7 separate regions of the Homo sapiens genome follow, and all the other regions are reported to be linked to region 3. The links are microRNA targets in miRTarBase. Many come from high-throughput screens and were not tested one by one. Region 3 holds a microRNA gene; each other region holds the end of a gene's coding sequence.
Evidence for each region. Region 3 holds the annotated microRNA hsa-miR-6752-3p (UCCCUGCCCCCAUACUCCCAG, at 3,111-3,131, opposite strand). A microRNA usually pairs through its seed, bases 2 to 8, with sites in the 3' UTR of a target mRNA and lowers its output. Matches are read on the target gene's strand: a 7mer-m8 pairs with bases 2 to 8, a 7mer-A1 pairs with bases 2 to 7 and ends in A, and an 8mer does both.

Region 1: miRTarBase lists PPP2R5D as a target of hsa-miR-6752-3p. Seed matches in the 3' UTR shown: 7mer-A1 at 3,263-3,269 and 7mer-A1 at 2,626-2,632.
Region 2: miRTarBase lists GPD1 as a target of hsa-miR-6752-3p. Seed matches in the 3' UTR shown: 7mer-m8 at 3,601-3,607.
Region 4: miRTarBase lists RALGAPB as a target of hsa-miR-6752-3p. Seed matches in the 3' UTR shown: 7mer-A1 at 1,437-1,443.
Region 5: miRTarBase lists RTTN as a target of hsa-miR-6752-3p. Seed matches in the 3' UTR shown: 8mer at 2,657-2,664.
Region 6: the mRNA of SECTM1 is a reported target of hsa-miR-6752-3p. Seed matches in the 3' UTR shown: 7mer-A1 at 1,920-1,926.
Region 7: miRTarBase lists OPA3 as a target of hsa-miR-6752-3p. The part of its 3' UTR that is shown has no 7-base or 8-base seed match.

Annotation. Positions count from the first base shown.
Region 1 is chr6:43,010,413-43,014,699 of GRCh38, reverse strand. It overlaps PPP2R5D (protein phosphatase 2 regulatory subunit B'delta), which reads right to left. Exons shown (of 16, transcript NM_006245.4): 13 at 4,131-4,232; 14 at 3,964-4,036; 15 at 3,703-3,819; 16 at 2,358-3,551. The coding sequence ends at 3,414. It overlaps MEA1 (male-enhanced antigen 1), which reads left to right and starts at 754. Exons shown (of 4, transcript NM_014623.4): 1 at 754-914; 2 at 1,311-1,585; 3 at 1,672-1,774; 4 at 2,079-3,557. The coding sequence starts at 887. The coding sequence ends at 2,230. KLHDC3 (kelch domain containing 3) reads right to left here and starts at 451. Exons shown (of 11, transcript NM_057161.4): 1 at 352-451. RefSeq lists enhancers at 503-622, 2,586-3,086 and a silencer at 833-882.
Region 2 is chr12:50,109,223-50,113,474 of GRCh38, reverse strand. It overlaps GPD1 (glycerol-3-phosphate dehydrogenase 1), which reads right to left. Exons shown (of 8, transcript NM_005276.4): 8 at 2,162-4,052. The coding sequence ends at 3,956. COX14 (cytochrome c oxidase assembly factor COX14) reads right to left here and starts at 1,239. Exons shown (of 2, transcript NM_032901.4): 1 at 1,174-1,239. RefSeq lists enhancers at 910-959, 970-1,209, 1,430-1,689, 1,750-1,799.
Region 3 is chr11:67,489,158-67,493,425 of GRCh38, reverse strand. MIR6752 (microRNA 6752) reads right to left here and starts at 3,181; the gene lies at 3,111-3,181. AIP (AHR interacting HSP90 co-chaperone) reads right to left here. Exons shown (of 6, transcript NM_003977.4): 3 at 3,971-4,159; 4 at 3,212-3,388; 5 at 2,969-3,110; 6 at 2,323-2,638. The coding sequence ends at 2,433. It overlaps PITPNM1 (phosphatidylinositol transfer protein membrane associated 1), which reads left to right. Exons shown (of 24, transcript NM_004910.3): 22 at 1-16; 23 at 364-492; 24 at 1,130-1,658. The coding sequence ends at 1,393.
Region 4 is chr20:38,574,686-38,578,972 of GRCh38, forward strand. RALGAPB (Ral GTPase activating protein non-catalytic subunit beta) reads left to right here. Exons shown (of 30, transcript NM_020336.4): 30 at 89-4,173. The coding sequence ends at 282. Among named protein-coding and RNA genes, the nearest start is that of ADIG, 4.4 kb to the right of the region's middle. RefSeq lists a silencer at 3,047-3,247.
Region 5 is chr18:70,000,464-70,004,750 of GRCh38, forward strand. It overlaps RTTN (rotatin), which reads right to left. Exons shown (of 49, transcript NM_173630.4): 49 at 2,568-3,773. The coding sequence ends at 3,688. Among named protein-coding and RNA genes, the nearest start is that of CD226, 55 kb to the left of the region's middle.
Region 6 is chr17:82,318,792-82,323,078 of GRCh38, reverse strand. SECTM1 (secreted and transmembrane 1) reads left to right here. Exons shown (of 5, transcript NM_003004.3): 4 at 68-201; 5 at 709-2,055. The coding sequence ends at 918. Among named protein-coding and RNA genes, the nearest start is that of CD7, 3.3 kb to the right of the region's middle. RefSeq lists silencers at 1,328-1,477, 1,488-1,667.
Region 7 is chr19:45,549,476-45,553,739 of GRCh38, reverse strand. OPA3 (outer mitochondrial membrane lipid metabolism regulator OPA3) reads left to right here. Exons shown (of 2, transcript NM_025136.4): 2 at 1-4,264. The coding sequence ends at 226. Among named protein-coding and RNA genes, the nearest start is that of OPA3, 33 kb to the left of the region's middle. RefSeq lists enhancers at 1-88, 89-719.

The DNA of each region.
Region 1 (4,287 bases), not on the chromosome of region 3:
TCTGCATATGACTCTATCCCTGTCTTCTTCCAGACATTCCGGCCTCCCCTAGCCCACCACGCCAGACACCCCTCCCCTTCCATTATGCTCAGCTTCCCTGTTTTCATGGCCCAGTCTTCCTTCCCATTTCCTTCATTGCTTCCTCCAGACACCAGGTCTCTCCTACCCATCTCCTCGCCATCCTCCCCTAGCCCTGCTTTCCCCATTAACACTCTCCTTTCCCATCATCCCCCTAGCTCCCTCCCCACCCCCACCTCATCACTCTCAGGCCCCTCCCCCGCCACTCCAGCTCCAGACAGCACGTCCTAAGCCCCCTAATTCTCCCTTGCCCTTCTACCCATCCCAGGCTACCTGCCAGGCCGAGCCGGGGCGGGGCCGCGGGTCCTCGAGCTGCCTGCAGCCTAGAACCCGTTGCGCGCCAACCGACGCCTTAGTCCCCAACGAGATAAACACAGCCAAGCTCGGTTCTTCCGGCGGGCAGCTGTGCGCGCACGTGCAGTCGTAGCTAAGTGCCGGAGGCATTTCGGGACTTGTAGTCCATACGTTTCCTGAGGGACGAGAGGGCTGAGGAGTGGGCAGGGGCGTAGGAGAGATTCTGCGCATGTGCAAATATGTGTCGAGACCGAGGAGGCCACTGGGTAATGCAGTCCTTTGTTTTTTGGGCTGGGAATGACGGAGGCGGGGCAAGGGGCGGACTCCTCGTCCTCGCCAGCGTCAATCATGGATATGGGGCGGGGCTGGAGGACTAGGCACCTCTGCACGTCCTGCCCCGCCGGAAGTGGAGGCCGCGGGCTCTGAGCGGGTGAGGCGCGCGGGAACACCGGCGCCGGGATTCGGATGGGGGCGGGTGGGGGACGCTGCAGCTGGGGCCATTTGAGGGGAGCCCATGGGGCCTGAAAGGCATCTGTCAGGCGGTACAGAGGGGGTCCTCTAGGAGAGGGGAGAAGGGGGCGGGTACGCCGACCTGTTTAGGGGAGTCTGATGACCCAGAGTTCCCAAGTCGCGGGGGAGGCGTGGCGCGGGGAGCCGGGGTTCTGGAAGGGGTGTCTTTTAGGAGGTGGCAGGGCCTCCGGTTGGGCGTTTAACTAGGAAGTGGCGGAGCAAGTTGGTGGGGCCTGGTTCAAGATAAGAACCCCGACTTAGGAGGGGGAGGAACGAGAGGCTGGAATTGGGGCGGAGGGGTGGAGGATGCAGGAGCCTCGGGGAGGAGCTGGTTTTTTGCACGCAGGAGACTACAAGGAGATGATGAGAGGATGAAGATGGGCCTGGTTTCATCCGATCCCTGTCCTACCGCCTCCCTGTTCTTGCAGCCCCTGCCCGGATGGCAACAGTAGTTCTAGGAGGAGACACCATGGGCCCTGAGCGTATCTTCCCCAATCAGACTGAGGAACTGGGACATCAGGGCCCTTCAGAAGGCACTGGGGATTGGAGCAGTGAGGAGCCTGAGGAAGAGCAGGAGGAAACGGGGTCGGGCCCAGCTGGCTACTCCTACCAGCCCCTGAACCAAGATCCTGAACAAGAGGAGGTGGAACTGGCACCAGTGGGGGATGGAGATGTAGTTGCTGACATCCAGGATCGAATCCAGGTAGGGTGGAGGAGGGATGGTTCCTGAACAGGTGAAGCTGGGCTCCCTGAAAGCCTAGACCCAAACGGTCTTCTGTGGCTCTGCAGGCCCTGGGGCTTCATTTGCCAGACCCACCATTAGAGAGTGAAGATGAAGATGAGGAGGGAGCTACAGCGTTGAACAACCACAGCTCTATTCCCATGGACCCAGGTAAAAGATCATTCTTTCATTCTGGAATAATTACTAAGGAAATGAACTGGCATGAGTCAGTAGAAGGAAGTTTCAGAGGAAGACCCTATCCTAAAAAGATAGTTTGTAAACTAAGATTTTGTAGACTTCAGAGTCCAAGTGAAATGCTCTTTTGCTAGCTTTGGGGATGGGCAGGCTTGCCTTAAAGTAACAAGGTGGATTTGGTGACCCTAGCAGCCCAAGGGCTCTGGGTTGATTCGGGGATTGGGGAGGGGAGCTGGTCCCATTATTTCTATGCCTGAATGGCCTCTGGCTCTGATTTCAGAACATGTAGAGCTGGTGAAAAGGACAATGGCTGGAGTAAGCCTGCCTGCGCCAGGGGTTCCTGCCTGGGCTCGGGAGATATCGGATGCCCAGTGGGAAGATGTGGTACAGAAAGCCCTCCAAGCCCGGCAGGCATCCCCTGCCTGGAAGTGACCACAGTGAGAGCTGCCTTATATTCCTACATTCCAGGCCAGAACCAGCACAGGACTGAACACATCCCTGGTTGTAATGTCCATTTCCATCTTCCCCGTCTCCCTTTCCACATCAAGGCACATCAGACTTCTCAGAGACCCACTTTATTCAGTTCTGTACATATGGGGACATCGGTCCAAGCCCAACCCACCTTAGCATGTATCACTCTGTGGAGAATAAAGCACCCTATGTACACAGCCAAAAGCCGCACTGCCTGCGCCCCTGGAACCTGGGTCCGGCCTTCCTCAGCCCCTGGCCCCTCCAAGGTACCTATAAGGGACAAGAGAAGGCCTGCCCAGCATAGCACAAACAAGGAAATAAATAGGTGTTGGCAGGAGCCATGCTTGGGGCACCGCTCCCTGCTTCCTTCTTTCTAGTTTTGGGAACCAACAGCACAGAAAAGCAGTCAGCCCCAGGGTGGTCCCTTCCATGTCTGTGACCCCAGGGCTGCTGCTCACCAAAGACAGGGCACGGGGTAGGGTGTTTATTCATCCCTCCCCGGCCCCACTTGGTCCATCTGGGCCCTATATTCATCAGTTATTGTCCACAGCCTATACTTTTCTCCTTTTGACCTCCCTTGGTCAGGCATGGGGTAAGAAGAAATAATACAACCCTATCTGCCAGCACACGGCTGGGACTGGGGGGCCTATTTGTGCTGCAGGGGGGTTGGCTTCCCTTCAGCTACTCTGGGACCAATGGGGCTTGACATAACTTTGGTGAGAATAATCTCCTGCTGTTCCCTACATGCCTCTGCAGGGGAGAGAGAGGAGGGGAGATACCTGGCGTTCAAATGAGGATGAAGGGAAGAATAGAGGAGCGTATGTATTCCTGTGTGTACTTCTCAGAGCAGCCTCAGGTAGCTGTGGGTGAGGAGCAGGTAGGGGACAGGCATCCCCAGGTTGTCTGAGCACTAAGCATCTTAGTGCTCAGCCTGTACTAGCCACAGGGAGGCATGAACACCTTTTGGGGAGAAGAGGGACCATTCTGTGGGTGTCCCTGCTTCAAGTGCCCACATCCCCCTCCCTTGAGTAGCTAGAGAGGCGCTGCCTTCCCCCAAGACAGCCAGTAGGGAGCAGAGTATGGAGGGCCAGGGCAGTGTCCCAGGGCTGTGTGGGCTGTGGCCCTGTGGTAGGAACGTGAGGGGTCAGAGAGCCTCCTGGCTGGCAGTTAGGAACTCTTCCGCCCGCTTGTGCGCCTCCAGTGCCTTGATGGTGTACACGTCCTGGGGCAGCTCCGACTTCCTCCGCAGCAGCACTTTCTCCTTCTTGATGTCTTTTAGCATCTGTGTGTGAATAGGGACAAGGTGAGGAATGGTGACCAATTCCCAGTGAATTCTATTGTTCCGTCCCCTTATTCTTTGGCTCTGCTGTTTCTGTCTCCTCTCCCTTCCAGAGCTATTATTTCTGCTCCATCCCCCTACATTGCCCTCCCACCTGAACAGCCTCAGTCTCCACAGTCCTCTTCAGAAGCTGGATGTCCTCAGCTGTGGGGGTCTCTGTCTCCATCGAGTACACAGGGGGCAGTGGTGGAGGGGCTCGGAACATGGGATACTGAGTGAGGAGACATGGACAAGCGTTAAGAGCCACTTCAGAGGCTTGGGGGCCTGTGTGCCCCATATTCCTCCCCCAACAAACTCTCCCCCAGCTCAAGATGGGCTGGCCCCTCAGTTCACAACAGTGGCAGGAAAACCTCACCTGGGGATTAAGCCGGGCCAGCTCCTCGATTTTTTGCCACATCTCTTCCCTTTCCTTCATTCGGAACCGGCCCCTGAGGAGCAAAAGTAGGATTGGGGTTGGGCTTGAGAGAAACACAGTGAGCTGGTGGTAGAAGATGAAAGTCTCCCGGGGAGAGAGATACTCACTTCTGCTTCTCTGCCTTGTATTGTTGTGTGCAGTCATCAAACAGCTTCTGATTCATTTCCATAAACAACTTCAGGGCATTATAGATCAGTCCATGGATTGTCCTGCCACCAAGAAGAAAGATGAGGTGTAGGAGGCCAGAGCCTGCCCTTAGCGTGA
Region 2 (4,252 bases), not on the chromosome of region 3:
AAAATTAGCCGGGCGTGGTGGCGGGCACCTGTAGTCCCAGCTACTCTGGAGGCTGAGGCAGGAGAATGGCATGAACCCGGAAGGCGGAGCTTGTAGTGAGCCGAGATCCCGCCACGGGACCCCAGCCTGGGCGACAGAGCAAGACTCCGTCTCAAAAAAAAAAAAAAAAAATTGCGTAAACGTATGGGTAGAAGTGCGATTTTGTTACATGCATACACTGCATAGTGGTCAACTCAGGGCTTTTAAGGTATCCATCATCTTTTATCTACTTTTTGTTTGGCACTTAGAGAGTAGTACATCGGCCGGGTACGGTGGCTCACGCCGGTAATCCCAACACTTTGGGAGGCCGAGGCGGGAGGATGGCTTGAGCTCAGGAGTTGGAGACCAGGTTGGGCAACATAGGGAGACCTTTTCTCTATTTAAAAACAACAACAACAACAACAAAAAAAAAACCTTTTTTTAAAAATTACCCGGGCGTGGTGGCGCACACCTGCAGCCTGAGCGACAAAGCAAGACCCTGTCTCAAAATAACATAACATAACATAACATAACATAACATAACATAACGTACATCATGCTACGGAGGCCGCTAAAAAGAACATGGCTTCTGTCATACAGGAGCTTATGGTCTCATGGAGAGGCACTGTGAGAGTTCAGAGACAACAGCTCAAAGACAGGGTGGGGGCTTGAGAAAACTTAGCAGAAAGGTGTAGGGGTGGGAATCGGGGTGGGAGTGGAACTGTCTTTTTAGAAGGATGGCCTGGAGAAGAGGAGCAGTGAGAGCATTCCAGGAAGTGAAAGCGGTCAAGAGGTGGAGCTGGATAGCCGATATGCACGAAGGGTGCCCCGGAGAGCCACTTATCAGGACGCAGAGGTCTATAGAGCAAGGAAGAGGCAGAGTTGGAGCGTGGAGGGTCGAGACGCCAGGCAGGAGTCGAGGTTTGACAGGATTAGCGCTGAGCTCTAGCAAGACTGACCTACTGCTGCGAGGAGCTTGGGCTTGGGCAGGAAGCAGTGCAGCTCGCGGTCCGCAACGCAACAGAAGCGGGTGAATTCAAGGGCACCAGGCCTGCAGACTAGGGGATGGGAGGACGCGGCAAGCGGAGACTGGCCCAGGTGGGCGCGCAGGCAGTGGGACTGGCAGCCCCTGCTCGGCCCTAGCCGGCAGCGTACCTGGATGCTGCAGCTCCTTCGCATCCAACCGAGGCCTCCTCAGGCAGGCAGGGTCTCGAGGCCACTGTCTACGCAACTTCCCAGCACAGCCGAACGCAGCACTCGGAACCAGACACGTGAGGGTAGCGTCCCTGGACAACCCTGAACGCCTCAGCTATTGGTGCAGAAAGCAACTTTCTCCCTCCCACCTGCCGGGTTAGCCTCTAGGATTCGGCTTGCCGCGCTATAAAGGGAACTGCGCATCAGACGCGGCACAACTCCGCCCACTAAGGCGGGAGTCCGCGCAGGCCGTCACTCTGGCTGGAGGCCGGCTTTGAACTTCCGGCTTCCGGGCCCGTTATCCTTACTACGCATCCTCAGACGCGCCGTGCTCTCGGAGAGGCCCGCTGAATTCTGGGGGCTGTGGTTTCTCTCCCTCGAGGGAGGGTCTTTGGCGAGCCAAGCTCTGGAACCGGAAGTTTTAGGATGCTAAATCAGAGTCAGCCAATCCTCAGCCTACGGTGCGGTGACGTCGCCAGTAGCTGGGTAGATTTTCGCAGCCGGCCTTCTGGAGGTGGATCGCGCGCCCCCTAGAGCCCGGCTGTGGGCCTAGTCCAGGTAGGGGCCCGAGGGGCACCGCGATGCCTGGACCGCTAAGGATGCGGCAGCTTGGCCCGTGACCAAGGAATGGGCACAAGGGATGAGAGTCTAACGTTTCCGTCCCGTGTGTGATCTCTATTCTTGCAGGAGGCATGATAAAGCCCCTAAGAAGGGCCGGCAAGGCCGGGGCCAGCTTGCGGCGAGGGCGGGAGGGGGCGCTGGCGGGAGGGGAGAGAGAGGGATGGGGACTGAGTGGGCACCGCCGCTGACCCCTGGAGTAGCTGCGATTATGGAGGAGGGATTTCTTTTTTCATTTTTCCTACGGTAAGAGGGAAAACATACGTGCAATGATACGCGCCAGCACACGCACTGCCACATGCACTGAAGCTCCCTCTCCCAACTCTTCTTGTTTCTGGAAAAAACACGCTTTATTGGGTAGACAAATAGGCCTGATGGGAAGGCCTGAGTCACAGTGCACTGGGGAGTGAACAAAAGTAGGCAAAGTGCTTGAAGCTTCCCCTTTGCCCCCACCTTAACCTCCTGGGGAGGCAGCTCTGGACACTCAGTACCCAGACCTGGGCTCAGCAAGGCCTGGGGTGACTGTGCCCCTCACTCCTGCTGCCTGATCTGGGCAGCCCCACCCTTCACTGGTAAGACAGAATTCTCAAGGGATAGGCGCAGAGAGGAGCCCGCCTCCCTGGTTCATTGGAGAGTAACAGGGTTTTAGCATAATGCTGGCCAGAGCCAGTGTGCCAGGTGCTGCCACACAGGAAGCTGACAGCCCTGCTGGACGGGCGGGAGCCTCTCGGGCCCTCCGGACTATTTATAGCTGGAGGCCTAGGCTGCTGACCTGTGACATTCCTCTGCTGCCACCCCATCCTGGAGCAAGGCAAGTGCAGAGCACACTCCTCCTCCTCCCCTCCTGTTCTTTCCTCACCCCAGGGAGTAGGGTGGTTTTGATTTTCTTCCTCCTCCTTGAGTTTCCCAGCTCTCGAGTTGCTGGTGTTGTCAGTACCTCACGAGAAGGCCCTCATTCAGCAAAGAGAGCTGCCCTTGGAATATTGGTGCCCACCAACATAGGAATCTGCTCACCCTTCCCTACCGTTCATCAGCCTTTGGGCCACCCTCTGGCCTGCTGGCTTCCAGATGCCAGGCATGGTTAGCTGGTTACCCTGGCCGGTCTGGAGCAGCTGAGGAAGAGGTGCAGAGTTTGGGAGGAAGAAAGGGGTGGAGTCAGGGATGTCCTCTGGGGAGATAGCACAGGAGGGGCCCAGCTGACACCTCCCCCAGCTAGAGCTACTGAGAAGGAAGCCTGGGTGAATACAAAGGTCACAGGGAGCTGAGTGATCTGAGCCTGTTATGAAAGGTGTAGCTCTGTCAGCAGATTAAGTTCCTGCTCCCCAAAGAGGGTGCTGGCGGGGAGGGTGAGGGAAGGCTTGGAAAGGTCGCACAGAGTGGGGAGGAGCTGGCAAAGAACTAGGAACCGGGAAGTCCCTGGGGAGAATGTCAAGCCACCGAGCTACAGATGCCAGCATGGCAGCAATTTGGGTGCCAGGGCAGCCTGGGGGAGGGGGAAGGGGGAGAACCAGAGGTTTCTGAGGACACAGATGTTGCTAGGAGAAGCTAAAAGGGGTTTGTTTGAGATCTTTGTATTTTGTTAACAAACACTGAGATCCATCGAAGCTGTGTGGGTCCTGGCAGAGGTCAGCAAAGGGGTCCTTGGGGCCTGCATCAGCTCAGAAGCCCAGACCCCTCCCTGACAATCCTTGCCTCATCGCTCCTGTGGCTAAGATACTTCTTCAGCCCTTTAACAGGATTACTGGTGTATGTGAGACAGCCACTAGCAGCCCCTGCCCTACCGGCCTCTCCCCCAACCCTTCTCCACATACATCACCCCCGCCACCAAGCAGGCAGCACTGGGGCTTGATTCCACCCCTCCCAGAGGATATGGAGAAAGCCCCACATCTGGAGAGGGACAGGGCAACTGCATTTCTGGCAAATGTGGTGGCATGAGGCTGCCAGTGGCTTGACAGTTCAGGATCTCCAGGTGCGTAGCTGGGCCCCATAGCCTCCTGTCCTCCAGTGAAAAGATGAGAAGACTCTGCTCCCTGGGAGTCCTGGAGATCCTGGTGACTAGGTACCCCAGGCTTCTGCTGGTCTCCACTGGGGTAAAAAAGCGGCCTGGCCTGGGCCCTGGCCCCACTCACATATGTTCTGGATGATTCTGCAGGCAGTGGATGAATTCACCCACTGGCTGGCCCTCGTAGCACACCTTGTACACAGCCATGAACAAGGGAAACCTAGATTGGAGAGGGAAAGGCTCAGCTTAGCCTCCCACTCCTGGTCCACTCTACCCCCACCCCCACTCACTGCCTAACCCTCCTGTCCCTTGCCCTCCCACCTTGGAGCTCAGGAAGGATGGCTGTGAGTTTCTACCTTCTGAGAATGTGAACTCCCTAGCCCTAGGTTTAAGGTCAGATTGCTAATTGCCCTGCTCCCT
Region 3 (4,268 bases):
GAGCCTGGTGCAGGAGGTGCGGCGGCTGGGGGAGGCTCCGGGTCCTGACCCCGCCCCCGCTCCCCCTTACCCTCCACCCCCGGATCGGCGGAGGCCCATCTGTTCCCAACTGGATCGGCCCGGGCCCTGCCTGACTGCAGCGGCCCGCTACGGTCCTGCTCCCCTAGTTTGAGGGGCCCCGTGTACTTAGGGGCAACTAGGGAGATGCAGCTGGTCCCGCCCCTGTCCCCGTGGGACTGGGACCTGTCTTCGCCTCCGTCTGCCTGGACCCACCCCCAGAACAATCTGGGGAAGCCCAACAGGCCCCGCCCCCAGCTGCACGGCTCCACCCCTGGGGCGGCTGATTGGCATCTCCCGCCACAGGTAGAACTGAACATCGTGGCCGGTTATGGGTCTCCCAAAGATGTGGCTGTATACGCGGCGCTGGGGCTGTCCCCGAGCCAGACCTACATCGTGGGCCGTGCCGTGCGGAAGCTACAGGCGCAGTGCCAGGTGAGGCCCAAGTGAAGGCCAGGAACAGGACCCCACCAGGGGGCAGGGCCCTCAGTCCCAGGCCTTGGGAACCACGGACTCTGGGGAAGATGTGAGAAGGCCTAACCGGCCTCCAGGGAACCTGGGATCCTCCGAGGACAAGGGCCATGAGCAGCTTGAGCTGCCAGCTGCCAGGCAAGCCAGAGGGGACAGCCCACACTGGAAAGTGCTCAAGACCCTAGGCGCTGGTTCCACTCGGCCATGGCTTTCCACTGTGACCTTTCTGAGCCTCAGCTTCCCATCTGTAAATGGAAATGATCATGGCACTGCCCATGTCAGCTTATGAAGATCACATCAACAGGCACAGGGCTGGGCACAAAGCAAGTGCTGGCTAAACATTGGCTGCTGTTATTTTTCCTCTAAGACCCCATTTTCCAGATGAGGAGACTGAGGCCCAGAGAAGGGCAGAGCTAGGAGCACAGCCAAGGTGCCCTGGCTCCCAGCCTGGGGTCCTATCTATTGAGAAGGCTTCAGCTCAGGCTGTGCCAAGCCTGCCACCAGTCCCCCAGCCTGCCTCAGGTGCCTCTGGAGGACCGTGGAGGGCAGCGTGTGGGCCCTTGGCCAGCACCCCCTCATCGCTGCCTACCTCTGCCCACAGTTCCTGTCAGACGGCTATGTGGCCCACCTGGGCCAGCTGGAAGCGGGCTCGCACTCGCATGCCTCCTCGGGACCCCCGAGAGCTGCCTTGGGCAAGAGCAGCTATGGTGTGGCTGCCCCCGTGGACTTCCTGCGCAAACAGAGCCAGCTGCTTCGCTCGAGGGGCCCCAGCCAGGCGGAGCGTGAGGGCCCGGGAACACCACCCACCACCCTGGCACGGGGCAAAGCACGGAGCATCAGCCTGAAGCTGGACAGCGAGGAGTGAGGCCCACACCAGCCTGGACCTGGGTTATTTATTGACACACCCAAGGGGCCCGAGGGGCTGCGTGTGGGAGGCTGGGGACCCAGACTTTTGGCCCCAGCGCTGGCCCCCCCAGCCCCACACCCTATATCTCCGTGTGCTCCTCGGTGTTACTTCCCTTTCATATGAGGGGACCCAGCGCCGGGGGGAGGGAGGAGGGCGTGGGCATGGGCGCAGAGGCTTTTCCAGTGTGTATAAATCCATGAAAATAAACGCCACCTGCACCCCACCCACTCACCCCATGCCTGGCATCACAGGGCAGCCAGCCCAGTTTCCAGTTCAACAGGGGACACTGATGTGCACAGAGAGGCCAACACACACCCAGGGCCATCCAGCTCACAGGCAGGGTCAGGATGGGGGCCTGGGCCTCAAAAGGTCGCACGAAACCCACGCCCAGGGCCATCCATGTCACAGGCAGGTCAGGATGGGGGCCTGGGCCTCAAAAGGTCTCACGAAGCGCTCGGCCCTCTCCTCTTTCTGGACAGTCAGCCCACCCCAGCCCAACCCGGCTCACCTCAGCCCCAGCGTAGCTTCTCATGGAAACCCTGCCCCCAGACACCGAGGCCAGGAGACCATGGGATCCGAGGCTGGAGTGGGAGGGCAGCACCAGGAGACTACCTCCCTCAGGTGCCCAGCTACCTAGCTTGTACCCACTTCATCTCCCCCTTAAGACTGTGGGCTCCTGGGGCGCCCCAGCCCTGGCCAGCGAGAGACACTTCCTTGGTGAAAGAGCTCATCGTAATTTCTCTAACAGGGACACCAGAGCCTCAGAGCTGGTGGGTGGAGGGGCTAGGATTTGAACCCTGATTCTTTGCCTCCCAACAGCCACCCAAGTACCAGGAATGCCAGGTGATGACCCGGCTCTCCCAGTGGAGCAGCTCAGCAGACTCAGAGAGAGATAAATAAAGGCCTTTATATACACAGAAGCATGACGCAGCACGGGCAGGGGGGCTGGCAGCTGCAGCAGTGGGCTTGGCAGGTAAGGCAGGGCCAAGTGCTCCTGTCAATGGGAGAAGATCCCCCGGAACCGGGCTTTGTCCTCTTCGTCCTTCTGCCGGATCCGTGCCTCCAGGGCCCGCAGCTCTCGGCTCACCACAGGCGCCAGGGCTGGGTCCAGCTCCAGCACTTTGGCAAAGTCAGCCTGGGCCTCCTGGGCATTCCACACGGCCGCGTGGGCCTTGCCCCGCTTGAAGTAGGCCTTGACGTTGTCTGCAGGGGAGGCCAGTGGGCAGTGGGCATGCAAGGGCATGAGGGGGGATCCTGGCCAGCTGCCTGCCCTCATGTCTCCTGGCACCATGGGCCCACAGGGGAGAGAGAGCCCTCCCTGACCTGAGGATGCCACCCCACCCCCAATACACCATTCATGCTTCATTGGCACAATGGGGCCCACAGCCCTGCCGAGTAGAGGCATTTAGTCAGGCCCCCGTGGGAGCTCAGAATGGGGGTTGTGAAAGGCTAGGTCTTGACCCCAGCAGTGACAGGAGAAAGGCCACTCTCTGACCACTCGCAGCCCCCGGCAGCCCAGGGCCCGGTGCTCACCGTCGTACTTGTTGAGGATGGAAGAGCAGTGGTCCAGCACCTCGTAGTACTCCTCGACCACCAGCTTGCACTGGCAGTAGTTGAGCAGCAGCGGCGTGATCTGCTGGTCCAGCTGGATCCATTCAGGGGACCCAGGCTGTTCCTGGGAGTATGGGGGCAGGGAGCGGGGAGAAGCTGTAGACCTGGGCCCCCTGGCTCCACACCCCCCTCCATCCATCCTCCCCCTCAGCCTCCAGGCAGTACCTTCATCTGCAGGTTCTTGAGGCAGGCAATGGCATCGTAGTACTTGGCAGCAGCCTCCTTCACATGCCCCTCGCGGTACAACCGGTTGCCCTCCTGGTGGATAAGTGGCACTGCCTTTGCCTTCTCTTCGTCTGTCATGGCCCATGGGTCCTGCTGGTACGTGCCAGGGCTCTCCACCTGCAGGGCATGGGGCATATCACAGCGGGGCTCGGGGACACCACAGCTGCGTCCGTCAGCAGCAGACCTGACCCACATCTGGGCTGGCTGGGCCCCCAGACATCACACACCAGCAGCAGAGCTACTTGTCACTCAAAAAGCATCAAACATCGATGTCACATCTCCTGTGTGCCCAGCACTGTGCCAAGTGCTAAGAATAGAACAGTGAACAAGACGGTGAAAAGCCCTGCCCTCGCAGAGATCATGCTGCATGGCAGGTTCCCTAAATGGACAAGGAAATCCATGAATTCCAAGGGACTTCAAGGTGCGGCAGAGGCTATAAAGGAAATGAGCTGCTGCGAGACAGAGAATGAGGAGACCGGGTGGGCAGGGCCGGTTTCCTGGAGGAGGTGACATTTGAGATGTGAAGGAGGAGGAAAGGAGACCCAGGGTACTGCCAAGGGTCCTGCACAGGTTTTCTTGTCTCTGTCCGCTCCCCCAGCAGTCCACCTGCGGATCCCACCACCCCTGGGTGGACAGGCCAGCGCCGCCCTGAGGCTGGGCAGTGGGGGCCTGGTGAGACCAGGCGCGGTGGCCCCTCACCTTCAGCATCTCCATGTGGAAGATGAGGGGCTGGGGGTTCTGCTGCAGGGCGTCCAGGTCAGCATGGCCCAGGGAGCTGTGTTCACGCATCTGTGCAACACCGCAGCAGTGCCGCTGGCCCTCCAGGGGGTCCTTGCCCACCGCGATGTTGCGGAGACTCTTGGCCACCAGCGGGTACAGGACCACATGCTGCGGGAAGGCAAGGGCGCCGGGGGCTCTGTCACCGTGGGCTGGCTGGTCACCGGGTCCACAAGGCCCAGCCCCCTTCCCCACCACCATCTGAGAACAAACACCAAGG
Region 4 (4,287 bases), not on the chromosome of region 3:
TGCGGAGAATAGTTCACCTGAATACTTACAGTTCACCTACGTAAGTGACTAGTTTCTAACGTTTATTTTAAAACTCTCTATTTTCAAGGCTTTCTGGTGAGGCAGACTGTAATTAACATTTGTAGAAGAAAGAGACTGGAAAGTGACTCCTACAGTCCCCCCCATGTCCGCCGGAAACAGAAAATCACCGACATTGTCAACAAGTACCGGAACAAGCAGCTGGAGCCAGAGTTTTATACTTCACTTTTCCAGGAGGTTGGACTCAAGAACTGCAGTTCTTAGACCACTGAATTTCTAAGACTGTTGAACTCCAGTTTGGGAACTATAACACAGCAGAACAGTTTGATAGGTGATCACTGTAAAAATAAAAACAAATCACTCCCAAGAGCTTACTGTTTAATCACCAGAATAGAAGAAACACATTATAACCCATTTGATAGAAGACTTTGGGCTATCTAGTGAAATGGGCTCCCAGACACAATCACACTCCTGCTGATAATGATGATATACATTTTAGCCATAAACTTTCTTTTAAAAGTGACAATTTTAGTTAAACATAAGCCTTTTGAGGAGAAAGGCTTTTATGCATCTCAGTTAAACACGTGCATTGGTAGTATCAACAAATTTGCAATATAGAAGTTGAAGATAGTTTTTTACCTCACTTTTTAGGAGGTTGTATTCAAAATTAAAATCTCAGAATCTTACAGGACATTTAAAGACTCATGTTGATAGCATGGAGGAGAAGGAAAGAAGTCACAGCCTTCTACTCAGTTGTAGGTCTTCTTGTCATCCAGCTGTCACACTGACAAAAAGAAAAGATGATACATGTTTTTTGCTCAGATAAGAAGCCTGACATTAAAAGATGTCATATTTTTTTCTCCACATTTCAAAAAGTTGTCCTTCTCATCACTGCACAGATCTGTCTGAAAGCCTCAGTTTCTGAGTGACCCAGGAACAGATCAGAAATGGAGCATGGCCTTGTCCTTTAATGGGGATGCAAATAAAGTTTGTGGGGTTAAAAGTTATAAGACAGCAGTGATACCCCACTCTCTCCATTATTGTCCAGCGGGGTGACATAATGACAGGTTAAATATTTGTGATTCATTGATTAAATATTATTTAAAGAAATGTAAATTCACAATAAGGGTTGAAAATTATTTGGTTTCATCCATTGTCTCTTATTTCAGGACCAAGCAGCAAACTGCAGTAGTTTGTGAAGGATTCTAATATGGGGTTCAGGAATAGCCTCTCAACGCTACTAATTCAGATCTCTCCCAGAGAACTACTGGATTTCCTCATAATTGACAAACATGAGTGACCACCTCTTTGGGTGGCTACTGTTAGAAATGGCTGTTGTCATGTTTTCTGGACTTTGCCAGCCAACAGATCCCTGCCAGGTTTTGGAAATACTTCTATTACCTCGCTGCTACTTTTCTGCAGGGATAAAACTTTTGAGGTGGCCAGACCCAGAACATCCAAGGATTCCTGTTACAGTGCTACAGTATACACTGCTCATTTATCCTATTCTCATGTGCTTTCTTCTTTAGTAAGATTATTTTAAGAAAATAAGTGATATTTAAAGTCCAAAGAGGAATGATCACAGTTGTATAAGGGGTGTTTTCCCACTTGAACTCTGATGTCAGTCGACTGTGGGTCAGAGCTACAACCATCTGTTTGGTTTGATGTTTTGGTGGTTTACTTACGGAGTGGGGATAGTGTGAGACCTAATTCCCTGTGCAAATGTCTCTTATTCCAGAAATGTGCATTTTGTCATCTATAAGCAAGAAATATGGGCATAGCAGCTCTTGGTTTAAAGTTTGCCATAACCTGTTCATGTTTGTTTTAAGCTCAGGTAAAGATAACCTCCTCTTTCTATGACTCCAGTTTCCATTCAGGTTATAGTATTATTCAATAGTTGATTTTCTTTTTAAGCTGGGCAATAAATTGATGTTTCCAGATGGTAACATGGGAGAGGGCATATAGGATAAAGATGAGCAAATTCTACCCTAAAAATGTTCTAGTAGTTCACAGGAAGAAGATGAGGTTTAATAACTTTCAAGGTAATTCTAGATTGACATTTTGAGGGGAAAATGGGCTCTTGTTCTAGTTGAAGTGAGCAGAGAAGGCTATAAATTAATATGTAACTTACAGCATTCCAGAGGTTAAAAATAACTGATGCAGATGTACTTCTTCAGTGTGATTCTTCAGATCAAACTTTTACTTTTGGCATAGTTAATTTCAGAAAAATGTGCTGTATGTGTGTGTGTATGAGGGTTGGTCTTGCTGATCCTTCAGTTAGCTCTAAATTCTGGCAACTCCTTGTAATTCCAATGTATTTGATACATGAACAATCATGTTGAATGCATTTGTGATCTGGGAGACTTCCTCGTCTTCCAGGGAAGGAAGGATGTGCAGCCCCTGAAGGCATGAAACTCCCAGTGTGTACGGAGCCAGTGGAATATGGGATACCCATACCTTACCAGGCGCTGGTTCCTTCTGCTCACAATAACATCTGCCCAAAGAGGGAGTGGGAAGAACGCTTAGCTCTTTCACTAGTATGGATTTGAGTTCATGGTCACTATTTTTACCCACCTGCCTTTGTTAAAAATCACTTTGAGTAGAATAGCACTGGAGGAACATATTTAGCACCTAATATTAATATTTAGTAGTCCATTGATAAATTTGCCAGCATATGTTCTAGCCTCTGGGGGGAAACCAGGACCACTTTTGTCTGTGGCTTAAACAGTTCAGTTGCTATATCTGTTGGGTATGCCGGGGGTGGATGAGTGTGGCATTCCGTGAAGAGGAAGGTGGTAAGTAAGGTTTCCCTTCTACTGCCTTCTTAAGTTGCAGGAGGGAGCTTTTCTCCTCCCCTCTGGTTGGGAGCACTGAGGACAGTGAGGAGGGCTTTTACCTTGTTAATCCTTTCCTTATTTAGCTAGCTTTCCTTTTTGTCTAGGGCTTCCTCTTGAGACCCTCTTCCATCCATTGGGCCTTTGAAAGGACTAATCAGACACACACACACACACACACACACACACACACACTCGCATACTCATGCACATTTTCCTTCATTTCCAGATCCTTTATTTCAGAGCAGCCCATTTTCCTCTGGATTCATTGATGAATACAAGTACCCACACCTTTGGCCAGTAATGTCAGTTACCTGCTGCAGGTTCTGTGTATGAGGCCTTCATGAACGGTTACCTTCTCCATACACTAGGGAAGCATTTGTCAGACTCTGCAGACTGGGTTCTAGAGAGGCAGAGTCTTTAAGAGTATTCATTTCTTCTGGAAGGTGGAGCTTTACCCAAAGTGGAAGTTAGCCTTGCTCAAAGATGTGTTTTGTGGTAGGTGGTAAAAATAAATAAATAAATAAATAATAAAAAAAGAAACATGTATTGGAGGTAATTTGACACTGCTGCTGGCAGTAGTTCTCTATTCACCATTTTAAAGCCCATTCAGGTTCTCTCTTCCTGAAAAGAACTGATTGCTGTGTTTACATGAAATGACATTGGAGTCAGATGGTCTGTTTTAAAGATTTCCATGACAGCCTCTTTTCCTGAGTTGGAGAGATTGGAGGTGGTCTATCCGTACGATGTGGAATCAAACGGTGGGTTTCTTAGTAGCTAAAGAAGCCATGTACTTCTAGTGTGTTTCTCAGAATATCAACTCATGTTCTTCAGATGCTTTTCTTTTTTTAATGGTGAGGGAAAAGGTATAATTTGGGATTCCACAGTGCCTTGCATATAGTAGGCGCCCAGTAAATACTTGTTGAAGCAAACCAAGTTTCCCAAGTCCTCATCTCTTATAGTGACCAAGACATCTTTCTCCTCTGAAGGGCTTGGCAGTTGTGGCTAAAAAATAAGCAGTATCATTATTTGCTTGAAATCATATATACAGTTTGTATGAATTTCAGTATGTTGCCAAGACATGATTTTTTCTTATTGTATTTTCTGTAAATATTTCTGGCACTGAACTGTAAAGTAAAGGCAAAGTGTAAATATGAAGGCGTGCCCGTGCCCCTTGCCTCCTGTGTTTCATCTTCGTCGGTTAGGGAAGAAGGTCCAGAGGTTTGTTTGTATTTATGCCGATCCTTTGTCCAGAAGAAGCCCATGGAATATTGAATGTAATACATTTAGTCAATTAAATTTTAAGGAGATTCTTATCTAATAACTTTGTGTGTGCTTTTGGATACAGGCTGAGGCTTTACTCCTACACTGGTGCTGTTAATTTTACCCTTTCAGGGGATGTCTGCTCGGCTTTGGCTGCCCTTTATAATTTAGA
Region 5 (4,287 bases), not on the chromosome of region 3:
AGCACATCCCCTCCCAGAGGGGAGGAAAGTTTGCAAGGACACAAAAGATTTGAAGTTTTTGCTTAAACAGATGTTTTTGAGAATTTTGTAAGAATAAAAAATCACTGATAACATCTAAGGGATAACTATGTACCAGGCTAAGCACTCAGTCCTCTCACCAACTGCACAAGGTAGGTGTCCTCAACCCCAGTTAGCTTGAGCCTGTCCCAGGTTTCCAACAATTGCAGTGGTGAGGCCAGGGTTAATTCCTGGTCCACAGGACTCAAGAGCCCTCTACTCTTAACCGCTCTATTATGCTCTCTCATTCACTGAGATAACTGCAAGCAGATCTTAATGCAGAAGCGGGGATGCCAGTCATTACTCTTACCCATCACTCTGGCAAATCCGAGGAACATCACGGGTCAAGAAGCAGACCTGGGGCTCTGGCAACCTCAAGAAATGGGGAATACACAAGGTGCAGCCCCAAAGACTGATGATGCAAAATGACACGGATGAAGAGTCCATTTAACACTACAAAGGAAAATTGGTGATCTGGAGTTAAATAGGCAAAATTCTGTTTTGTTTTTTTTTTTTTTTTGCTCCATTATTTATAGAACACCAAAAAAAGAGGTACATTCAGCTATTCATTTCTGTAAGTGTTTTTAGGAAGAGTGGCAAAAGGGTCTAGCCAGGTCTGCTAACACCACTTTCCTACTAGCTTCCTGTTTTCAAAACTAATGGCTGCCTCCTCCCTCAAACTGCTCAAGTCTTAAGCCCAGAAGCCTCAGTATCAATGTCTGCACTTCATGTGTGACGTGGCACTACCTTTTTGTGCTTCCATAGCGCACATACACTAACTCAGCCCACCAAAAATGCTAGGATATGGAGAAATTGGACACCATGAAGTATGAACTAGTCCCCTGCACCTATTTCCTGGATCCTTGCTTAAACTTGGGCAGGTGTGAAAGAAAAAATACTTGGTTCACATTCAAGAGACCCAGATTCAAGTCCTGATTTCATCAGGCAGCAGTTAAGTGATATGAAATAATTTTCGTGTTCTAGGCAGTTTTCTGTAATCATGGGGATTAATCAGTGGTTCTCAAACTGTGGTGAGCAGAACCTGGAGAGCTTGCTAAAAATTCTCCTAGACACAAGTCTGCCTCATTGAGCCCAGGAATCTGCATTTCAGTGCACACACCTGAGGATTCTGATGCTGGTCCGCAAGGGAGAGGCAGGGCAGCTGCTACAGCAGTGGGCCAGTCACCTCAAGGCTCCTGCTGAGACGTCTTCCCCACTGGCTGACGGTGCATAATCCCAGGAGACCCAGTTGCAAGGACTGTCCCCCAGGATCTGGACCACAGCGTGCACCCGAGCTTCACATTCCTGGACACCAAGAGAGGCAAACGCAAGTTCCCCTAAAGCCATGGCCCCTCTCCTTTCTCCAAGGTCTGCAGTCCTCCTGGGCTTTGGCAGGTAACATTTCTGGGTGGTTCTGACTACTAGGCTACAAATCTCCCTCTGGTACTACTGTGAACTGCTAGGGAAAATGATCAGTTACAACAATTCTTCCTGGTTCCAAGAAGATGAGGTAGTGCCTACTCTGATATGTGAATCAGTCAATCAATGAACCATAATATAATTTCCCTGAAGAGAACAAATTTTTGTTGAAAAATGGTGTTTATCTATAAGATTCAAACACAAAAAGAGATATTTCAGTGGGGGTGGTAGAGGGGCAGAATAAATGGTTTATAAAGAAAAGTGGTTTATAAAGAAAAGCAAACTTCTTCGCAGTTATCCTGGGTTCCAACCTCCACTTCACTGATAACCAGCCACAGTCAATGAGCACATTACTTAACCGCTCTGCGCCTCCGCTTATTCACCTGGAACACAAAGACATTAGTAGTATTTTAGAAAAAGATAGATTAAATGATAAAAGTTCCGAGAATAATAGCTGGGACATAGAAGGAGGAGTTATAAAGGAGTTATGAAGGGAGTTAGAAATTCATTTCATTTATTTATCAGTGAGGGCTGATTAGAGAATTCCAGAAAAATGGCAAAAAATATAAGATATCGGGAGAAAAGGGAAAAATAATTCCCAAGATTCCTGCTCTCAGAATTGACGAGTTTTCCGCTACACATTAACTTGGGCAGCTCAGAAACTTCTGAGCTTCCTAGATTTATTTTTCAGATCTCGAATCAATTAATTCTCAGACATTACAAACTTAACTGTTACTATTTCTGTATTTAACATAAATTTTGTCATACTTCCAGCTTAAATAACATCATTGCTTATTTTATTGCTGTTAGCAATTTAACAGCACTTAAAATGATATTTTTCTTTCAGTTTTTCTGAAAACATTATCCTAAATGAATATATATGTATACATGTATATGACATATATGTATATACAAACATATATATATTAATACTTCACCTTTTATTTCTCTTACACACAATTTTCTCACTTTCAAAAGTGTTGGGAAAGTTGCTGAAAGTGATTAGTACTTGATTTTGGTTTAAGTGCGGAATTCAAAACTACAGGTTAAGTAAGATTATGTAATAGAGTATAGAGCTTGTTCCTCCTGCATTTTTTTTTTTTTTTTTTTTTTTTGAGACAGAGTCTTGCTTTGTCACCCACGCTGGAATGCAGTGGCATGATCTCAGCTCACTGCAACCTCCCTGCCTCCCAGGTTGAAGAGATTCTCGTGCCTCAGCCACTGGAGTAGCTGAGATTATAGACGCTCAAGACCAGGAATGGCTAATTTTTGTATTTTTAGGAGAGATGGGATTTCACCAAGTTGCCCAAGCTGGTCTCAAACTCCTGGCCTCAAGTGATCCACCTACCTCGGTCTCCCAAAGAGCTGAAAGTATAAGCATGAGCCACCAAGCCCGGCCATCTTCTGCATTTTTCAGTCTTACTCTATTCTTCATGATGTTTTGGGCTGAGCTAAATTTGAACCCAGGCTTATACAGCCCCAACTCTATTTCTTTCTTCTTTATTACACAGCCTTGCAGAAGACAACGGTGAAGATTATACATGTAATGATTTAAGAGTCATCTAGGAAGAAGATAACATCACTAAAACTTGCCTAAGAAAGCTACTTACAAATCATGTACATTTACTTCCACACAGCCCTTTACAAATAATGCACACTTACTTCTACATAGCCCTTTTCCAGTGTGGATGCTCTGGATAACAGAAAGTTTTGAAAATAAGGATTTGCACTGACAGAGCCAAATTTTACATCAGTTAAAATTTAAAAAAAGAGAGAAACAACCAGGACACAGTGTCTTATTTCAACTCCTAAAATTAATATTCATGAGACTGATAAAAGTCTGTAAGCAGCAATTATTAGTCAATTTTTAGTTTCTAAAAATATTGTTTTATTAAATAACTGTTAAATAGGATTTTTACAAAATAAATGGCATAGAAAAGGGTAAAAATGTTTATGTTCCCAGAACTTTCTATGCCTTTTCAACAGAAAGGAAAAGGCACAGAAAGTTGTCAGCTGCTATTACTTCTGGAGAGCTGCCACAACTGGACGGTGTTGGAGTATCACCAGTTCTCTCTCTCATGGGAAAGAAGGGGATCAACACTTTGTAGAGAGGTAGCACGTCTTCAGGTAACAGCTGCTACACACAGCTGGCTTCAACTTTAGCTCCCCTGTTGATGACTGTCAGCTTCAAGGTGTAGCATCCCATGGCACTCAGGAAGAATTAAGGAGCTGCACGAGGTTTTCAAGACATTTCAAATAATAGGCATTTAGAGGGTTTGCTTCTGAGTTTGGGAAAGCTGAGATAGAAAAATAAGAGTACAGAAATACTAGTTTATGAAACTTGGTACTATACTTAGGAGGCACACACATAAACAAATACATATGAACAGGATTTATATATAATTTAAAGCTCTAAGTTCTTGATGTAATAGCATTCCAGAATATTTTGCATTTTTTAAAAAATAAACAAGTTACAAAATCAATATTTTTTTAAATTAACAGCTTACCCAGAGTATTTTTTAAAAAGTACCCCCCATAATGGATACCATTAACTATAATTCCAAATGAATGCCATTAATCTTTTTTTATGTACCATCCTTCCTAAAGCATAATCTTTAACTTCACTAGCTCCAGAAATTCATGGTCGCAGCTAAAACAAACTAAAACCTCCCCTGCTTAAAAAAAAAAATCAGACTATAAAAACACAAATAACCAACAGATATATTACAGTACAGGAAAGACACAATTCAGTGTTTTAGCATAAAAAATGTTCAGAGAATAACGCTCACTGAAATTTGGTGTCACTAAAAA
Region 6 (4,287 bases), not on the chromosome of region 3:
TACACGGAGGAGGTAGGGGGTGGGGGATGCCCAGCCCACCTGTACACCCCTGAACTGCCTCCTTCAGGTGCAGAACCCCAGTCCGCCCCCGACACTGGGTTCTGGCCTGTGCCAGCGGTGGTCACTGCTGTCTTCATCCTCTTGGTCGCTCTGGTCATGTTCGCCTGGTACAGGTGCCGCTGTTCCCAGCAACGCCGGGAGGTAGGAGGCCCTGCACCCCAGTTTGTGCGGGGTGGGGAGTCTTGGGTGGGGCTGCCCCAGGCTGAGGTCAGCCTTACTGTCCTGCACCTGCTGGGGCTCCAGGAGAGGGTGGGGGGAGCACCGGTCCCAGAGAGCCAGTCCCCGCCAGGGGCCCAGCCGGCTATGGTCAAGAATACAGAGCCAGGCTCCCCACCCAGACCCGCCCTGCCCTTCCTGCAAGCTCTCACTGTCCCCAGGACTCCCTGGAGGGCAGCATGGCAGGGTGCGTGGTCTCCATCAGGGACGGAACTTGGAGTTTCTGAGCCAAGGGAGCCTCTTGCTGAGGGTGCCTTGGGGAGTGGGTTCAACCTCCAGCAGTTTCAGAACCCAGGCGAGGGCTGGGAGTGTGCCTGGGGGTGGGGGTGTGCATGAGCACGTATGCCCGTGAGTGTGAACGCACGCCCCAGGGCAGAGCTGTGGGCACGGGGGCGCGCGGCTCACACAGGCACCTCCTTCCTCCCCCTGCAGAAGAAGTTCTTCCTCCTAGAACCCCAGATGAAGGTCGCAGCCCTCAGAGCGGGAGCCCAGCAGGGCCTGAGCAGAGCCTCCGCTGAACTGTGGACCCCAGACTCCGAGCCCACCCCAAGGCCGCTGGCACTGGTGTTCAAACCCTCACCACTTGGAGCCCTGGAGCTGCTGTCCCCCCAACCCTTGTTTCCATATGCCGCAGACCCATAGCCGCCTGCAAGGCAGAGAGGACACAGGAGAGCCAGCCCTGAGTGCCGACCTTGGGTGGCGGGGCCTGGGTCTCTCGTCCCACCCGGAGGGCACAGACACCGGCTTGCTTGGCAGGCTGGGCCTCTGTGTCACCCACTCCTGGGTGCGTGCAGACCCTTCCCCTCCACCCCCCAGGTCTTCCAAGCTCTGCTTCCTCAGTTTCCAAAATGGAACCACCTCACCTCCGCAGCACCCGACTTACCAGGACGCATGCCCCTCCCTCTGCCCTCATCAAACCCACAGACCCGGACTCCCTTTCTGCCACCCCAGGCTGGTCCGGCCCCAGGTGTGGGGTCCGCTCTCTCCACTCCCAGGGCTCCGCGCCCAAGTGAGGGGGCCCCTGCCGGAGCCTCAGACACACTCCAGTTCAGGGCTGTGGGGGGCCTTGGCCACATACCTGTCCCTTGGCTATGAGCAGGCTTTGGGGGCCCTTCCGCGGCAGCCCCGGGGGCCGAGGTAGGGTCGGGGGCTTAGAGGCTGGGATGGCTCCTGGCCCCACCGCCAGGGGGCAGCGCAGGCCGGGCTGGGAGGCGGCGGCGGCGGCTCGGGCTGGGGGGTCAGGTGGACGCCGCCCTCCGGGGCTGGACGCGCATCCCTCAGTCCCTCGGCCACCCGGGGGTCGCTCCCTCGTGCCCACCGCACCTGCCGAGCCTCTTTGGACCCAGATCTGTTCATGCTTTTGTCTTCGTCACTGCGGCGGGGCCCTTTGATGTCTTCATCTGTATGGGGTGGAAAAATCACCGGGAATCCCCCTTCAGTTCTTTGAAAAAGTTCCATGACTCGAATATCTGAAATGAAGAAAACAAACCGACTCACAAACCTCCAAGTAGCTCCAAATGCAATTTTTAAAATGGAAAACAAAAATCTGAAAGAAACGTCTTTAGTGGCTTTAAGCCCCAAAACGTCCCTAAGGCGTCCTCGAGATGAAGACGGGGGGGAGCCCCCAGCCAGGTGGAGACCCCGCAGGGACGCGGCGGCGCCCGGTGACCGAGGCCTCGCACAGCCGGCCGCCCTGAGGGTCGGGCCGGAGCCAGGGTCCAAGAGGGGCGCGTTTGTGTCTCGGGTTAAAATAAGGTTCCGTCCGCGTGCTGGGTCAGACCCTGTTCTGTGGGCACAGCGCCCGGGACCCCCGCACGGGGGTCACACCTGCCTACACAGGCTGAAGAGCATTGGCGTGTCTTCAGGTCAAAGTTTTTCTTTCTCTTTTTTCTTTTCTCTTTTTTTTTTTTTTTTTTTTGGAGATAGGGTCTAGATCTGCCGCCCAGGCTGGAGTACACGGTCGCGATCACGGCTCGACCTCCTGGGCTCAAGCGATTCTCCCACTCTGGCCTCCCAAAGTGTTGGGATTACAGGCATGAGCCCCTGAGCCCAGCCTCAAAGTCACTTTGAAATCGGTAGTGCGGTCGCCATGTCCCCTGCGCACCCAGGCAGGAAACCCAGGAGGAGAGCCTGGGGCTGGAGTCCGTGAGGATTTTCATCTTTTCCTGGTGGCTTATCTCTGCTTCTGTTTTCCCTACTGGGATTTAGTGCTGGTCCTCACGCTGCCTTCCCCCTCCGTGTGTGGAAGTCTGTGTCTCCCTCTGCAGCCCCCAACCCCACCCGGCCCCATGCTGTCCTCAGACACACCAGGCACGCTCTGGCCTCAGGGATTCTGCCCTACTGATCCCGCTGCGTGGAATGCTGTTCCCCGGGGCCCCAGTTGGTTTCACCCACGGCCCGTTCCTGGGTTGGCCTTTGAGGGCCACACCCACACCCTGTGTCCTGCTGGCTGTCCACCTGGCCTCCCTGAGGTCAGCTCCAGGCGGGAGGGCTCCTGGTCCACACTGCCCCCTGCTCCTGGCACAGACGCTGGCATAAAGACGCCCGGTGAACGTTGGTGACCCAATGCATGCATGGAGCAAAGGCCAGAGGAGGGGCTGCTCCGGCAAGTGCTGTTACCCACCGCCTCGAGCCACAGCCTTGCTAGGGTGCTCCAGGGTCTCTGCGCAAGATTCTGCCCCCAAACCCTCTGTCTCTCGTTTATGGAGAGCCTGGGGGAGGAAAACCGGCTCCCCCAGGACCCTCGGCCCAGCAGAAAACCTGCACCACCCCACAGCCCCACCCGTGTCTCCGCACCGGCTGCTGTGGCTGGGACTTCTGGGGAAGGAGCTCAGGGCTGCAGGTCCGTGTGTGAGTCACGGGCACACATCTCTGCACACACGCGTGAGTCACGTGCACCCTTCTCTGCACACACACGTGTCCACATGCACCCGTTTCTGCACACACGCATGGAGTCGCGCACCCGTCTCTGCACACACGCATGGAGTGACGCGCACCCGTCTCTGCACACACGTGTGTCCACACGCACCCCTCTGCACACATGCGTGGAGTCACGCGCACCCGTCTCCTCACACACGCGTGTCCACACACACCTGTCTGCACACGAGTGTCCACACATTCCCGTCTCTGCACACGCATGTCCACGCGCTCCCGTCTCTGCACACACACGTGTCCACACGCACCCCTCTCTGCACACACACATGTCCACACGCTCCTATCTCTGTACACACGCGTGGTCATGCACACCCGTCTCTGCATACATGTGTGGAGTCACGCGCACCCGTCTCTGCACACACGCGAGTCACGCACACCCGTCTCTGCACACACACGTGTTCACATGCACCCGTCTCTGCAAACACGTGTGGAGTCACGCACACCCGTCTCTGCACATGCGTGGAGCCATGCGCACCCGTCTCTGCACACACGCGTGTCCACACGCACCCGTCTCTGCACACACATGCGTGGAATCACGCGCACCCGTCTCTGCACACACGCGTGGAGTCATGCGCACCCATCTCTGCACACACACGTGTCCACACGCACCCGTCTCTGCACATGCGTGTCCACACACATCCATCTCTGCACACACGCGTGTCCACATGCACCCGTCTCTGCACACATGCATGGAGTCACGCGCACCCGTCTCTGCACACACAAGTGTCCACACACCCGTCTCTGCACACGCACGTCCACACGCACACGTCTCTACACACGCACGTGTCCACACGCACCCGTCTCTGCACACCCGCGTGTCCACACGCACCCGTCTCTGCACACACGCATGGAGTCACGCGCACCCGTCTCTGCACAAAGTGTCCACACACACCCGTCTCTGCACATGCGTGTCCACACACACCCGTCTCTGCACACACGCGTGTCCACACACATCCGTCTCTGCACACACGCGTGGAGTCATGCGCACCCATCTGCACACACACGTGTTCACACGCACCCGTCTCTGCACATGCGTGTCCACACACACCCGTCTCTGCACACACGCGTGTCCACACG
Region 7 (4,264 bases), not on the chromosome of region 3:
GGCGCAGCAGCGCCACAAGGAGGAGGAGCAGCGTGCTGCCTGGAACGCGCTGCGGGACGAGGTGGGCCACCTGGCGCTGGCGCTGGAAGCGCTGCAGGCGCAGGTGCAGGCGGCGCCGCCACAGGGCGCCCTGGAGGAACTGCGCACAGAGCTGCAAGAGGTGCGCGCCCAGCTCTGCAATCCCGGCCGGTCCGCTTCCCACGCAGTGCCTGCGTCCAAGAAATAGGAGCTTGCTGGATGGAACCTGAATTTGGACATGGCCTATGTACCTAACGTGGCCTTCTTCCCGCACCACCCTTGCCTGCGCTGGCCCAGTGGAAACCACCAGGATCTTGATGCAACTTGGCATTTGGTTACCCCTGCTGATAAGAGCAGCCGTTACCTGCCACTGGGACCAGCAGGTGAAGCGTTGCAACATAGCCCCCTCCATCATCCTTCACCTCCTATCCCCCACTCCAAACCAGGACGACCTGCAAGGTCCCAGCCAGCAGGACACCGTGGGCACTCTGGCAAATGAAAAAATGGAACCTGGTCTTGAGCTGAATCAATGTGTTATTGTTACCCCCACCCCCGGTTTACCTGATCAGTGTTAACCTTTACTGGGACACTCATCTGTTACACTGGAACACCTTCTTCTTTTTGTCAATCGGCACAGACCACTGTAAGGAAATGCAGTGTGTTGCAGTGGCCTTTTCTCCCCCTCACCTTCTAAGGTCAGCTCTAGCTGAGCATCAGTGCTCTCTTAAGGAGGAAAAAAACGGTGCGGCTGGGAGCGGTGGCTCACGCCTGTAATCCTAGCACCTTGGGAGGCCGAGGCGGGCGGATCACTTGAGGTCAGGAGTTCCAGACCAGCCTGGCCAACATGGTGAAACTCCGTCTCTACTAAAAATACAAAAATTAGCCGGGTGTGGTGGGGTGCGCTTGTAATCCCAGCTACTCGGGAGGCTGAGGCAGGAGAATTGCTTGAACCCATGAGGTGGAGGTTGCGGTGAGCCAAGATGGCACCATTGCACCCTAGCCTGGGCAACAGAGCAAGACACCGTCTTAAAACCAAAAGTTAACCGGGCGTGGTGGTGGGTGCCTGTAATCCTAGCTACTTGGGAGGCTGAGGCAGGAGAATTGCTTGAACTTGGGAGGTGGAGGCCAAGATTGTACCACTGTATTCCAGCCCGGGTGACAGAGCAAGACTGTGTCTCAAAAAAAAAAAAAAAATCCTGGCTGGGCACGGTGGCTCACACCTGCAATCCCAGCACTTTGGAAGGTCGAGGTGGGCGGGTCATTTGAAGTCGGGAGGTCGGGAGATCGGGAGCTCGAGACCAGCCTGACCAATATGATGAAACCCCGTCTCTACTAAAAATACATAAATTAGCTGGGCATGGTGGCATGCACCTGTAATCCCAGCTACTTGGGAGGCTGAGACAGGAGAATTGCTTGAACCCGGGAGGCAGAGGTTGCAGTGAGCCGAGATTGCGCAATTGCATGCCAGCCTGGGTAACGAGCAAAACTCCATCTTAAAAAAACCCACAAAAGGTCCTGGCCTGCAGTCAATCCCTGGAATCATTGTACCTTCCCTTGAGACCCGAAGTGGACTATTCCAACAGAACCCCCTCATCCTTGAGTCTATGGCACAACCCACTGGAATGGCACTACAGGATCTTTTCTGTGAATGTCCTCCAACCCCCCTTTCCGTGGTGGGAAATTTGATCCTAACTAGGGCTAATCCAGCCTGTCCTTCAGCCTCAGCCCCCTATTTTCCTGTCCTCAGAGTCCCTGGAGCTTGTACTGTGTGGCATGTCCTTTCTTGCCTTCCCCACCTTGCTCAGTAGCATTTCTCAGGGACCCAGTCGAATCCAAGCCCATGGATTCAATTGTCACATCCTTCATCTTCCATCCGTGTCTCCTAATCTGTGTGCTCTTGCTTTCTTTCCTCGGAGCTCTGGACTGACCCGACAGCCTGTCTTCATGTAGCAGTACCCTCCTGCCTCCATAGCCCCCGGTCCCACCCCCATCCTACCAATTAGGCCAGCAGTTGGCCTTAACTGCTTGATTAATTTCCTTGGACTGCCATAACAGATCACCATTGGGTGGTGAACTTGATGGCTTAAGTCCAACAGGAATTTAATTCACACAGTTCTGGAGTCCAGAAGTCTGAAACCAAGGTGCTGACAGGGACACGCTCCCTCTTCCAGCTCCTGGTGATTCCAGGCCTTCCTTGGCTCTGCCTGCAGCTTCACATGGCCTTTTCCCTCTTCTATTTTGTCTCTTACAAGAACACCTGTCATTGCATTTAGGGCCCATCTTAAGTTCAGGATGATCCCACCTCAAGACCCTTAATTACATCTGAAAAAACACTTTTTCCAAATAAACTGTCATAAGCACAGGTCCTGGGGGTTAGTATGTGGACTTGTCTGTTGGGGGCACACCATTCAAGCCATTCAGCCCACTATTCCTCCTCACCCCAAGAGTACGCTGGCGTCCAGGTGCAGTGGCTCACACCTGTAATCCCAGCACTTTGGGAGACCAGGGCAGGAGGGATCTCTTTGAGCCCAGGAGCTGAAGACCAGCCTGGGCAACATAGTGAGACCCCATCTCTACAAAAGTAAAATAAAAAATTAGCCAGGTGCGGTGATGCATGCCTGTAGTCCCAGCTACTTGGGAGGCTGAGGCAGGAGGATCACCTGAGCCCTGGAGGTCGAGGCTGCAGCGAGCCGTGATCGCGCCACTACACTCCAGCCTGGATGACAGAGTGAGACCCTTTCTCAGAAAAAAAGTACCCTGGGACTCCTGCCAACCCCGCGGGCCATTTGGCCTTCCTGCTAGCTGAGAGGAACAGTCTAGGAACCACCCTTTTCTACTGGGTTTCTCTTCCAGGATCTGCCACTGAAGCGGGAGGGGGTGGGTCCCAGTAGCCTGCAGTCTGTCCTTCCGACTGTAGCTCTCTCATTAGAGGAGCTGCAAGGTGATGAAGGCATCCTGAGGCTGTACCTGAACCACCATGTGGATCTCCACAATGGGTACAGAGCTTATTAAAATCAGGAGGGAAACTGGGAGGGTTCTGATGGGGAGAGGCCCAAGAGTCACCCTATGAGCTGGGGAAACTAAGGCCAGGGGTAAGCAAAGGGACTTGCCAGAGATGCCACAGCCAGTGAGGGGCTGACTGCCCAGGGTGGTGAAGTAGTAGGGGCAGAGTGAGAGGCTTGGATTACCCCAGCTGCAGAGTGAGGAGGGAGAGGCGATGGCTGAGCAGAGGCTGGGAGGGTGACGATCTCTACACAGAGGCCCAGACCATCCCAGAGGTGGCGTTGATAGTGGGAGACCCTCTCTATCCCCTCTCAGAGCAGCCCCAGATCACACCAGAGATCATAGCATTGTGTAAACTGGGTGACCATTCCACCTGGGCCCGCTTTTGGGAAGCTGCAGGTGAAAGTGGGAGGGCCGGGCTTTCCCCGACTTCCATCCTCACCTCCCTTCTCTAAAGAGGTAAAACTGGCCTGGACCAAGATCTGCCCAGATAGAAAGCCAAGAAACAGGTTCTGAAACTTTTCTTTTCTTCTTTTCTCTTCTTTTTTCTTTTCTTTTCTTTCGGAGACAGTCTAGCTCCGTCACCCTGACGGAGTGCAGTGGTGCAATCTCGGCTCACTGCAACTTCTACCTCCCAGGCTCAACCAATGATCCTGCCTCAGCTTCCGAAGTAGCTGGGATTACATGTGCCCACCACCCACGCCTGGCTAATTTTTGTATTTTAGTGGAGACGGGGTTTCTCCAAGTTGCCCAGGCTGATCTTGAACTCCTGACCTCAGGTAATCCGCCCGCCTCGGCCTCCCAAAGTGCTGGGATTACAGGCGTGAGCCACCGCGCCTGGCCTGAAACAGCATTTCAGTTCCTTCTGGAAGAGGGGGAGAAGCTGGAGCAGAGGGAACTGACCGAGTGGGTCCTGAGTGGGCTGTGTTTAAAACTGGGAGTGACCCAGGCCAGCTCACGCCTGTCATCCCAGCACTTTGAGAGGCCAAGGTGGACTGATCACATGATGTTAGGAGATCGAGACCAGCCTGGCCAACATGGCAAAACCCCGTCTCTACTAAAAATACAAAAATTAGCCGGGCATGTTGGCACATTCCTGAATCCCAGCTACTCGGGAGGCTGAGGCACGAGAATTGCTTGAACCCAGGAGGTGGAGGTTGCAGTGAGCTGAGATCGCGCCACTGCACTCCAGCCTGGGTGACAGAGTGAGACTCAACTCAAAAAAAAAAAACAGAGGTGGGAG